3 linked regions of the Homo sapiens genome follow. The protein of the gene in region 1 interacts with the protein of each later gene in a pairwise test. Each region holds a gene or a part of one and is shown in the gene's direction. Other genes may lie near its edges. The genes, in order: CFAP53, PIBF1 and TBC1D21.

Region 1 (3,655 bases):
TTTCAGATAGCCTTTTTCACTTAGCATAACCCTCAGGAGATTTGTCCAACTTTTTGGATCTATCAATAGTTGTTTCTTTTTCTTTTTCTTTTTTTTTAATTTTTTTTTTTGAGACAGTCTTGCCCTGTCACTCAGGCTGGAGTGCAGTGGTGTGGTCTCAGCTCCCTGCAGCCTCAACTTCCCAGGCTCAACTGATACTTCAGCCTCAACCTCCTGAGTAGTTGGGATTACAGGCACAAGCCACCATGCTCAGCTAGTTTTCTTATTTTTTGTAGAGATGGGGTCTCACTATGCTGCCCAGGCTGGTCTTGAACTCCTGGGCTCAAGTAATCCTCCTGCCTTGGCCTCCCAAAGTGTTGTGTTTACAGGCATGAGCCACTGCACCCAGCCTTCTTTTTATTCTTTTTTTTTTTTTTTTTTTTGAGATAGAATTTTGCTCTTGTTGCCCAGGCTGGAGTGCAGTGGCGTGATCTCGGCTCACTGCAACCTCCGCCTCATGGGTTCAAGCGCTTTTCCTGTCTCAGCCTCCCGAGTAGCTGGGATTACAGGCGGGTGCCACTGCGTCTGGCTAATTTTTGTGTTTTTAGTAGAGACAGCGTTTCGCCACGTTGGCCAGGCTGGTCTCAAACTCCTGACCTCAGGTAATCAACCTGCCTCGGCCTCCCAATTTATTCTTGAGTAGTGTTCATGGTATAGATTTACCACAGTTTGTTTAGCCATTTACCTGTTGAAGGACATTTGAGTTGTTTCCAGGTTATGGCTATTATGAGTAAAGCTGCTATAATCATTTGAGTACAGGTTTTTCTGTGAACACATTCTCACTTTTTTTTTTTTTTTTTTTTAGGCGGAGTCTTGCTCTGTCACCCAGGCTGGAGTGCAGTGGCATGGTCTCGGCTCACTGTAACCTCCACCTCCCGGGTTCAAGTGATTCTCCTGCCACAGCCCCCTGAGTAGCTAGGATTACAGGTGTGTGCCACCATGCCTGGCTAATTTTTTCTATTTTTAGTAGAGATGGGATATCACCATGTTGGCCAGGCTGGTCTCAAACTCCCAACCTCAAGTGACCCACCCACCTTAGCCTCCCAAAGTGCTTGGATTACAGGCATGAGCCACCACACCTGGCACAAATCATCATTTCTATGAGATAAATGCCTAGAAGAGCAATTGCTATGTCATATAGTAATTGCATGTTTAGTTTTTTAAAGAAACTGCTAAACTGTTTTTCAGAGTAGCCATACCATGTTACATTCCCACCAGCAATACATGAGCAATCCAGTTTCTCCACATCCTCACCAGCATTTGGTGCTATCACTATTGTTCACTTTTAACCATTCTGATAGATGTGTAGTAACATCTCATTGTGGTTTAATTTACATTTCCCTAATGGCTAATGATTTTGAACAACTTTTTATGAGCCTGTTTTCTATCTGTATGTCTTCTTCAATGAAATGTCTCTTCATGTCTTTTGCCCATTTTCTGTTTTTTTTTTTTTTTTTAATTTTTGTTGAGCCAGTATCTCACTCTGTCACTTAGGCTGGAGTACAGTGGCATGATCATAGCTCACTGCAGCCTCCAACTCCTGGTTTTTGTCCATTATCTAATTGACTTGCTTATTTGATTTCTTTTTCCTGTTGAGTTTTTTGTTCACATTTAAATCATTTTTTTAACAGCTTCAAGAGAGAATTCACATAACATCCAGTTCCCCAGTTTAAACCATACAATTCAGTGGATTTTACTGTTTTCACAGATATGTGCAGCTGTCATCACATTTTATTTTAGAACATTTTCACTATCCTGCTATCCCTTCTTCCCCACCTCCTGCCTCCAGTCCTAAGCAGCCACTTATCAACTTTGTGTCTCTATAGATTTCCCCATTCTGGACTTTGATATGAATGGAATCACATGTTATGTGACCTGTTGACTGTCTTCTTTCACTTAGCATAATGTTTTCAAGATTTATCCACATTGTAGCATGAATCACTATTTTATTTGTTTATGTGGCTGAATGATATTCCATTGTATGGATATGCCACATTTTGTTTATGCATTATGTCAGTTGATGGACATTTGGGTTATTTCCACTTTTTGGCTATCATGAATAATGCTACTATGAACATTCATGTACACATTTTTGTGTGGACATATGTTTTTATTTTTCTTTGGGGCATGTATCTAGAAGTAGTACTACTGGGCCATACGGTAACTCTGTGTTGAAGTTTTGAGGAACTGCCAAACTGTTTTCCAAAGTGGCTGAACCATTTTACATTCCCACCAGCAGTGTATGAGGGTTTTGATTTATCCACATGCTCACCAACACTTGTTATTGTCTGTTTTTTTTATTTTACCCAGCCTAATGCATCTGAATTGGTATCTCATTATGGTTTTTATTTGTATTTCCCTAGTGACTAATGATATTGAGCCTCTTTTCCTGTGCTTATGGTCATTTGTAGATCTTCCTTGGAGAAGTCTATTTGAAGGCTATTCTCTATTCTTAGAGAAGTCTATTCAAGTCCTTTGCCCATATTTTAGTTGGGTTATTGGTCCTTTTATTATTGAATTGTAAGAGTTCTTTTTTTTTTTTTTAAATCTCACTCTTGTCGCCCAGGCTGGAGTGCAATGGTGCAATCTCATCTCACTGCAACCTCCACCTCCCAGGTTCAAGCGATTCTCCTGCCTCAGCCTTCTGAGTTGCTGGGATTACAGGTGCCTGCCACCACGCCTGGCTAATTTTTTTGTATTTTTAGTAGAGACGGGGTTTCACCATGTTGGCCAGGCTGGTCTTGAACTCCTGACCTTAGGCGATCCACCCACCTCAGCCTCCCAAAGTGCTGGGATTACAGGCGTGAGCCACCACGCCTGGCCAAGAGTTCTTTATATTTTCTAGATTCAAGTCTCTTACCAGATAAATGACTTGCAATTATTTTCTTTCATTCTATAGGTTGTCTTTTTACTTTTTTGATGATGTCCTTTGAATCACAAAAGTTTTAAATTTTGACAAAGTTCAATTTAGCTATATTTTCTTTTGTTGCTTATGCTTTAGGGGTCCTATCTAAAAAATGGTTACCTACTCTAGGATCACAAAGATGTACTTCTTTGTTTTCTTGTTAGAGTGTTATAATTTTAGCTTTTACATTTAGGCTTTTGATCCATTTTAAGTTTTGTATATGGCATGAGATAAGGATCCTAATTCATTATTCCTCATGTGGATATCCAGTTATTCCAGCATCATTTGTTGAAATAATTCTCTAATTGTTCCCCTATTGAATTGTCTTATCACCCTTGTCAAAAATCAATTACAGTAAAGTGAAGGTTTATTTCTGGACACTCAGTTCTATTCCATCAATCTATATCTCTATCCTTAGTCCAGTATAACAAATCTATATGTCTTGATTACCGTAGCTTTGTAGTAAGTTTGAAATCAGAAAATGTAAATCCTGGCCTGGTGCAGTGGCTCACGCCTGTAATCCCAGCACTTTGGGAGGCTGAGGCAGGAGGATCACCTGAGGTCAGGAGTTTGAGACCAGCCTGACCAACATGGTGAAACCCCGTCTCTACCAAAAATACAAAAATTAGCCAGGCATGGTGGCCCATGCCTGTAATCCCAGCTACTTGGGAGGCTGAGGCAGGAGAATCGCTTGATCCGGGAGGCGGACGT
Region 2 (3,655 bases), on another chromosome or scaffold:
CCAATCCCAACAGTGAGGGTTCTACCCTTATAACCTAATCACCCCAAAGGCCCCAACTTCCTGCTACTCACATTGGTGATTAGGTTTCAATATACAAATTTTGAGGGGAGAAAAAAAAATAAGCACACAAGACGTATTAGCCGTTGTTGTTTTCAACTAACATAGCATCCTTATCTGTTTCATCCCTTTCATTTTCTGTGCCTTTTATGGCCATCGGACTGAATTTGTTTGTTATTTGTCTGTGAATAGACTATGAGGTCCATGAGGACGGGGATGTTTTTGTATTCATGGTTGTATTTCCAGCACTTAGAACGGTGCCTGACACAAATTAAGTGCCCAGCTATTTCTTAAATGAATGACTGAACCCCATTTTGCTCTGATTAAACAAAGCCACTAGGTGGTTAATAGCATACCCAAGGCCATTCAGATGAAAGTGATAGAGCCAGATAGGATTCAAACCTAGGAAGTCTAAAGCCTATACTCTACACAAGTGAAGCTCCAAACACTTTCTTTTAGGTACCCTATACAGTCACCTACCTAGTCTAGGTCACTTGGTAGTTTATCCATGCATCCAGTGGTTTCCCATCCCTATTCCCTTACTCTTTTTGCATTTCACATGAACTCCATCTACCTTCACCTCTCCAGACCTTAGTGCAACTCATTGAAGAAACCTGAGGTTATCTCCCATTCATTAATTCACCCACTCAGTCAACAAGTATTTTTTTAAGTGCCACCTGTATACCATATCCAGACTTACATTTTGTTCAGCCACCTCTTGTATTATTTGTTTTCAACTTGCATTGTCCTTGGTTGTCAATGGCTTTGCTTCTTTTTAGGTGTAAGCTTTATATTATAGAAATGTTGGTTGATTCATGACAGGCTCTCTAGTGTAACAAATCCAAATTACAGTTCTAGATGCACACAGTTTGGGTTTTGAATTCCAGCCTTACTAAATTCCTTAATGTTTTTATTCCGTGATTTCCTATAAAATGATAATAGTATTTATTCCGTGGAATTATCGGGAGGATTAATCAATGTATGTAAGCTCATAGATGCTTGGTGTATACTAATAATAAACTTATTATTTACATATTATTTTATTTGTAGCTATACTTACTCAGCACAATATTATTATTTTTCTACTTCCATGGTGCTTAGTGTAGTTTTTGTTGTGGTTTTCTAGTTTGACTGAAAATGTAGAAGATTGCAATAGTCGTGTTCCTGAGTTTGACACATAATCATCATTGATCCCTGAAAGGCTGCTGTTTTTCTAATGTATTTATTCTTTTCATTCCTATAGCTCATTCCATTTCTTAATGCAAACATTTTAATGTTTTGTTTACATGTATTCTTGAGAATGTGTATCTTTTAACTTTACAGAAATGTAAATTATATGCTTTGTTTTAGTTCTCATCTCTTTTTTCCTACTCAGCACTGTTTTTGAAGTTATCTATTACTTTGTATACATCTAGTCCTTTGCTTCCAACTCTTATGTAATTCTTTGTGTGCGTCTACCAGTCTTTCTACTCCTACATTGCTAGGCATCCAGATTGCCTCCAGCTCCTTGCAACACATGCAGCATTAGACATTTCTCTTCTGGACCTCTGTGAGCATGTCTTTGACATATATAAATGTCTCCTTCATTTAACTAAGTGTACTGCCAGGTTATCTCCAAAATAGCTGCCCTGCTGTATATTAGTAGAGTTTTTTTCTCTATCATACGAGCACTCAGGATTCTCTGCTTGAAGACTCTTTAGGAATAAGATGTTTGCTCTCAAATATATGAAGAAATACCTATTGTAGAGTTAGCCTTCCATAATTTATTGAACCTAAAGCACCTCTGTTGTAAGATGCATCATTACATACATTGCTAAGGTTAAACACTTCCAGTTGAATTGTTAAGTGCCTTAGATTGTAAAATGCATTCCAATTTTAGAGATGTTAAAATGTGAGAAAGTGTGAGTCTGGAGTTGATGAAAGAATATTTAAAAAATATTTTTATTAAAGAATATGTATATGTATGTTAATGTGTGTATGTGTGTATATATATGTTTACTTCTTACATGCCCTGGGAATAACACCTTAGACAGGCAAACAGCACTACACACATGATATATATTTTTTCACTTATTTGTTTATGTATAAATTGGTATGTGACATATTTCTTTATATGTTTTAAAATAACACCTTTATTTGTATGTGTTATTATATGTTTAGTTATGTCTTTATTTTTGTCTTTATGTGTGAAGCACTCCAGATGAACAAAGTGCTACACTGTTTCTTGTGAGCAGTGATTCTAAAGCTAGTACACCCCACTGAATTTTGTCCCTCTGGTCGATTGTGAGGACTCAGAAGTATATTGGACTCCTGGTGTTAGAGCTGTTTGTTTTCTTGGTGTTTCAATGAGGTCCAGCTCTAGAAGAAAGCAAAGAAGGTTCATGGGGTATTTTGAAATGAACAGGGTCCCCAAAAGCCTGATGGATCTGGTAACACCACGCGGTATTTGATTCAAATCTATCTGGTAGCATCCTCTCTGAATTTTTAAGTGAAGAAGAAAGGGGCTCAATTTGGTAGTGCTGCCATATACTTTTTTTTTCTTTTAATTTTTTTGAGACAGAGTCTCACTCTGTTGCCCAGGCTGGAGTGCAGTGGCATGATCTCAGCTCACTACAACCTTCACTTCCTGTGTTCAAGCGATTCTTGTGCCTCAGCCTCCCGAGTAGCTGGGACTGTAGGCCCGTGCCACAACGCCCAGCTAAGTTTTGTATTTTTGGTAGAGATGGGGGTTTCACTATGTTGGCCAGGCTGGTCTCGAACTCCTGGCCTCAAGCAATCCACCCATTTCAGCCTCCCAAAGTGCAGGTGTGAAGCCACTGCACCCAGCCATGCCATACACTTTTTAGCCTGGGCAGGAAACTTAAAGCCTAGGTCTTGAAAGAAAGGTATTTTTAATTGGTCATTCATTCTCCAAAGCTTATTGAGCATCGTATGCTAACGTTATGAAAAATAAATTTTCCTCACTAGACTATAGCTCCATGATAATGGTTGGAAGTCACAGGAAAGGTAGATTTCTGCTCAGTGTAAGCCTGTTATTGCTATTAACATTGAAATGGCCTGATCTTAAGTTTCTGAGCTTCCTGTCATTGGAAGCATTTAAGTAGTCCTGAATAGTCAACTGTTAATAAATATTATAGGTATTTCTATTTTGGAAAGAGATTGAACCAACTGCCCAGGGTTTCAAGGATTAAGTTCAGCAGTTAATACCAGAGACTTGAAAAATGGTGGTTTCTGGTAACAGAGACCTGGAAACCATGGCTTAAGCAAGAGAAGGATTTTGTTTCTTTGGTATAACAAAAATCCAAAAATAGGTATTTTAGTAGACCTCAAGTGATTACTCCTTGATCGCATTAGGAACCCAGGCTCCTTTTAACCTTAGCTATTTTCAACATATGCTTTTCACCTGAAATCATAAGATAGCTTATCTGCCTCCAGTATTGTGTACATGTAAAAGGTGGTAATAAGGAGAAGGATAGTGGAAAAGGGGGCATGTGCCAAATGAGTCAGTCCTCTTTAAAGAGTTCTTCCAGAAGTTCAAGCCAGTGGCCTCAATTGACTAACATTGTATAGCATGACCACCCCTACCTACAAGGGATGG
Region 3 (3,231 bases), on another chromosome or scaffold:
CCACAGAAGGGAAGGGTGCAGGGGCTGTGCAGTCCCTCTTCCCCTGGTTCTGCTTCTGCTTCCAGCGTGCCTTCAAGTCCTTCGATGATGTCTGGAGGCTCTGGGAGGTGAGGTGTCCAGCTAGGGATCATCAGGCTGGGCTCCACCCATCAGGCAGAGTGGAAGCTGCAAGTCTTCCTTGCCTCCCCCTTTCTTCCTGGCTTGGATGGAGTTCAGTATCTCGGGGTTTTGTTAGGTCAGCAACCCTGCTCCCACCTTGCTGGAGGAAGCTGGAGCATCACTTTGTCCATATGTTCATTTAACACAAAGGCCCCACTGACTGTGCCTTCTGCTAGCAGTTGACACAGGAGGGCCCTATGGCCTGTGCAGTGGGAGCCTGGGCCTGCAGCTCCACTTCCCCGCTGCCCTGCCCAGGTGGCCTCCCCACGCTTTCACTTCCCCAGCTGTCCCCCCAACCCTGGCCTTCCCCTTCCCCAGAGTGCTGCTCCTGTGGAACTCTCTCACAGAAGGTGGGTCCCTAAGGACACCTGTAGTCCTGTGACCACAATCCTCAGGGCCATCAGCAGATGAACCCTCTGAGGAATGCCACCCCCACCCATCAATGCCCTGCCCATGGCCACCGCTGCCTGCAGTGTCCAGCCCAACCATCCACCTGGCATGTAGGGCCCCACAGATCTATTCCCACCTGCCTCTTGGCTGGCTGGTCTCCATGCCCAAGTCCATGACCACACCCAGGCCTTTGGTGACATCCTTGGGTCATTTAATTCCCATCAACCCTTGCTTGCCAAAACCCCACTCAAATTCGACAGTTTCCTAGTGTCTTCCCACCCCTCATTGCCTCCCTCCCCTTCCTCTATCTAATGAATTCCCTGAAGCCTCTATCTCTGAAACCCCCAGGAGACAGCACAATGCCTAGAACCAGGAGTACCTGTGAGCACATGCCTGAGTGAGTGGATGAGTGAGTGAGTGAATGAAGGAATGATTGAATGAGCAAGTCAGCAGCAAGGCCCAGGAATGGCTGACTCCAGGCACGTGGTTGGTGGGTACCTCACCATCCTCAGGGCATCTGCAGTCTCAGACCACAGGGCCCAGACTGAGACGTCCTGACCCACAGGTTCTGCTGACGGGGAAGCCCTGCAGGAACTTCCAGGTGCTGGTGGCCTACAGCATGCTGCAGATGGTGCGGGAGCAGGTGCTGCAGGAAAGCATGGGCGGGGATGACATCCTCCTGGTGAGAGCACCCTCGGGCAAGCTACCACCCCTGCTCCTGGAGGCCCTGACACCCCACCCCACCCCAGCTGAAAGACCGGGGTTCATGGGGTGCTGGGCACCAGTGCCACCTTTTCCCCCCAGACAGAAAGGGCAATGAGATCTAAGGTACGGATTACCGTGCCAAGGGCTTTTAATAGAGCTTGTTTAAGCCTCACCACAAGCTTGACACAGGGAGGCTATAACCATCATCATCACCCCTAGTTAACACATGAGGAAATGGAGGCCTTGAACACTCCCTAACTATTAAGCTCTACCATCTCGCAGTTAACCCTGTGGCCCTAGGATATTGCTGAAACAGAAGGACCTAGAGTTTTCCACCATTTTAAAAAAGCTACTGAAGTCTTTGTTGGAAGAAACAAATCTTAGGTGACACCCTAATTATAAACCAAGTCCTCCTTCAAAGCCCCTAAGACACTTGGTGGAGCCCCAGGACTCCTAGAGCCTAACATGAAAGCTAACATTTACCATTGCCCCAAAATATCAAATTTTAGGCATTGAGCCAAGCAGGCTGGGGAGAGGTCAGGTGGTCCCCAGCGACTGCTGTGAGCAGCATCCTTCTTCCCTGGGTGCTGCAGGCAGCTGCATGTGCCCAAGAGTGCTGGGAGATGTTTGCCCCAGCCCCACCCACAACTGCTCCCACACTCCCATGCAGGCCTGCAACAACCTCATCGACCTTGATGCTGATGAGCTGATCTCTGCCGCCTGCGTGGTTTATGCTGAGCTCATCCAGAAGGATGTAAGTTGCCCCAATGATGTGTCCTCCTCCTCCTCTTCCTCCTCCTCCTCTTCCTCCTCCTCCTCCTCTTCCTCCTCCTCCTCCTCCTCCTCTTCTTCCTCCTCCTCCTCTTCTTCCTCCTCCTCTTCTTCTTCCTCCTCCTCTTCTTCCTCCTCCTCTTCCTCCTCCTCCTCTTCCTCCTCGTACTCCTCCTCTTCTTCCTTCTCCTCCTCCTCTTCTTCCTCCTCCTCCTCCTCCTCATCAGAGCCTATCCTGATCTCCCAAACGCAGCCCATGGCAGGTGCATTCAACTTCAGAGACACAGACTGTGCCACGTTCTCTACCACTGACCCATGCATGTTGCTCCTCATGGTCTTCTCGTTGTTTGCACATGTAGCTCCTTCCTCCCTGAGCAGGCTGTACTACTTGAGAGCAGGGCCCTCATCCCCCATTCCCTGTGTCCATCCCAGTGGGTCTGGGCACCCAGAGGCTCAGGAGAATGTCGCTGCTTAGAAGAACCGAAGAATGAAAGGGACAGACCAATGTCTGTGCACCTCCCACCTGCCTCCTCCCTAGGTTCCTCAGACATTAAAGGATTTCTTCCTCTGAGGACACCAAAGCCCGCAGTGGACTGATGCCTTCGATGGGCAGGATGAAGGCCAGGGGCACTGGAGTGAGGGAGTAGATAAAACAGCTGCAATATAAACAGTCCTCTGGAATAATGGTTTGTGGTGGATGCTATGTCTTTGACCTTAGGGGCTGGGACGCACATGAGGGCTGAGACAGGGTCGTACGATAGGAAGAGAGGCTGGCTGGCTGAGAGACACATTCTGAGACTAGGGAGGGTGCTTGCTGGAAGAGACTGGGTCAGTGGCTCCTCCTTGATGGAGGGTTTTCCAAGGCTGCGGTGGATCCATATCTGGATACAAATGGTTAGAGTAGAACCAGCTCTGAAAGGCTTCCAGACCCCTGTGGAGGACAAAACTGAGCACATTTAATAAGGATTAGTTCATCTGGACTTAGGTCCTGAGAGGAAGGCTGGTCCTGGGGCTCTGCCCCCACCCCCACTGCTCCCCTGAGTCCTGTCACATCAATCACACAATTAAGTCATTTTTTCCAGAGATTTCCTGCTAGTCTGTGGAAGGGGCTGGCCTGGAAGAACTATCTGATGAGCAGGCAATTCCCTTCCTGGTTTCAAAGCCTCCCTCATAATTGTGCCTTCATTTATCAGCCTGCAAATGTGT

Evidence for each region.
Region 2: the proteins of CFAP53 (region 1) and PIBF1 interact in a two-hybrid assay, tested with the Homo sapiens proteins (one large-scale study listed by BioGRID).
Region 3: the proteins of CFAP53 (region 1) and TBC1D21 interact in binary tests that used the Homo sapiens proteins (3 or more experiments, as listed by UniProt).

What each region holds. Positions count from the first base shown.
Region 1 is NC_000018.10:50,245,971-50,249,625, reverse strand, and holds part of CFAP53 (cilia- and flagella-associated protein 53), read left to right. Parts: intron 1-3,655. UniProt on the Homo sapiens protein: Microtubule inner protein (MIP) part of the dynein-decorated doublet microtubules (DMTs) in cilia axoneme, which is required for motile cilia beating.
Region 2 is NC_000013.11:72,785,067-72,788,721, forward strand, and holds part of PIBF1 (progesterone-induced-blocking factor 1), read left to right. Parts: intron 1-3,655.
Region 3 is NC_000015.10:73,886,506-73,889,736, forward strand, and holds the end of TBC1D21 (TBC1 domain family member 21), read left to right. Parts: intron 1-6; coding exon 7-107; intron 108-1,114; coding exon 1,115-1,231; intron 1,232-1,924; coding exon 1,925-2,008; intron 2,009-2,278; coding exon of another isoform or gene 2,279-2,500; exon of another isoform or gene 2,501-2,563; coding exon 2,564-2,596; 3' UTR 2,597-2,709; downstream 2,710-3,231. UniProt on the Homo sapiens protein: Acts as a GTPase-activating protein for Rab family protein(s). Essential for the establishment of male fertility, and is required for both the production of normal sperm number and sperm function.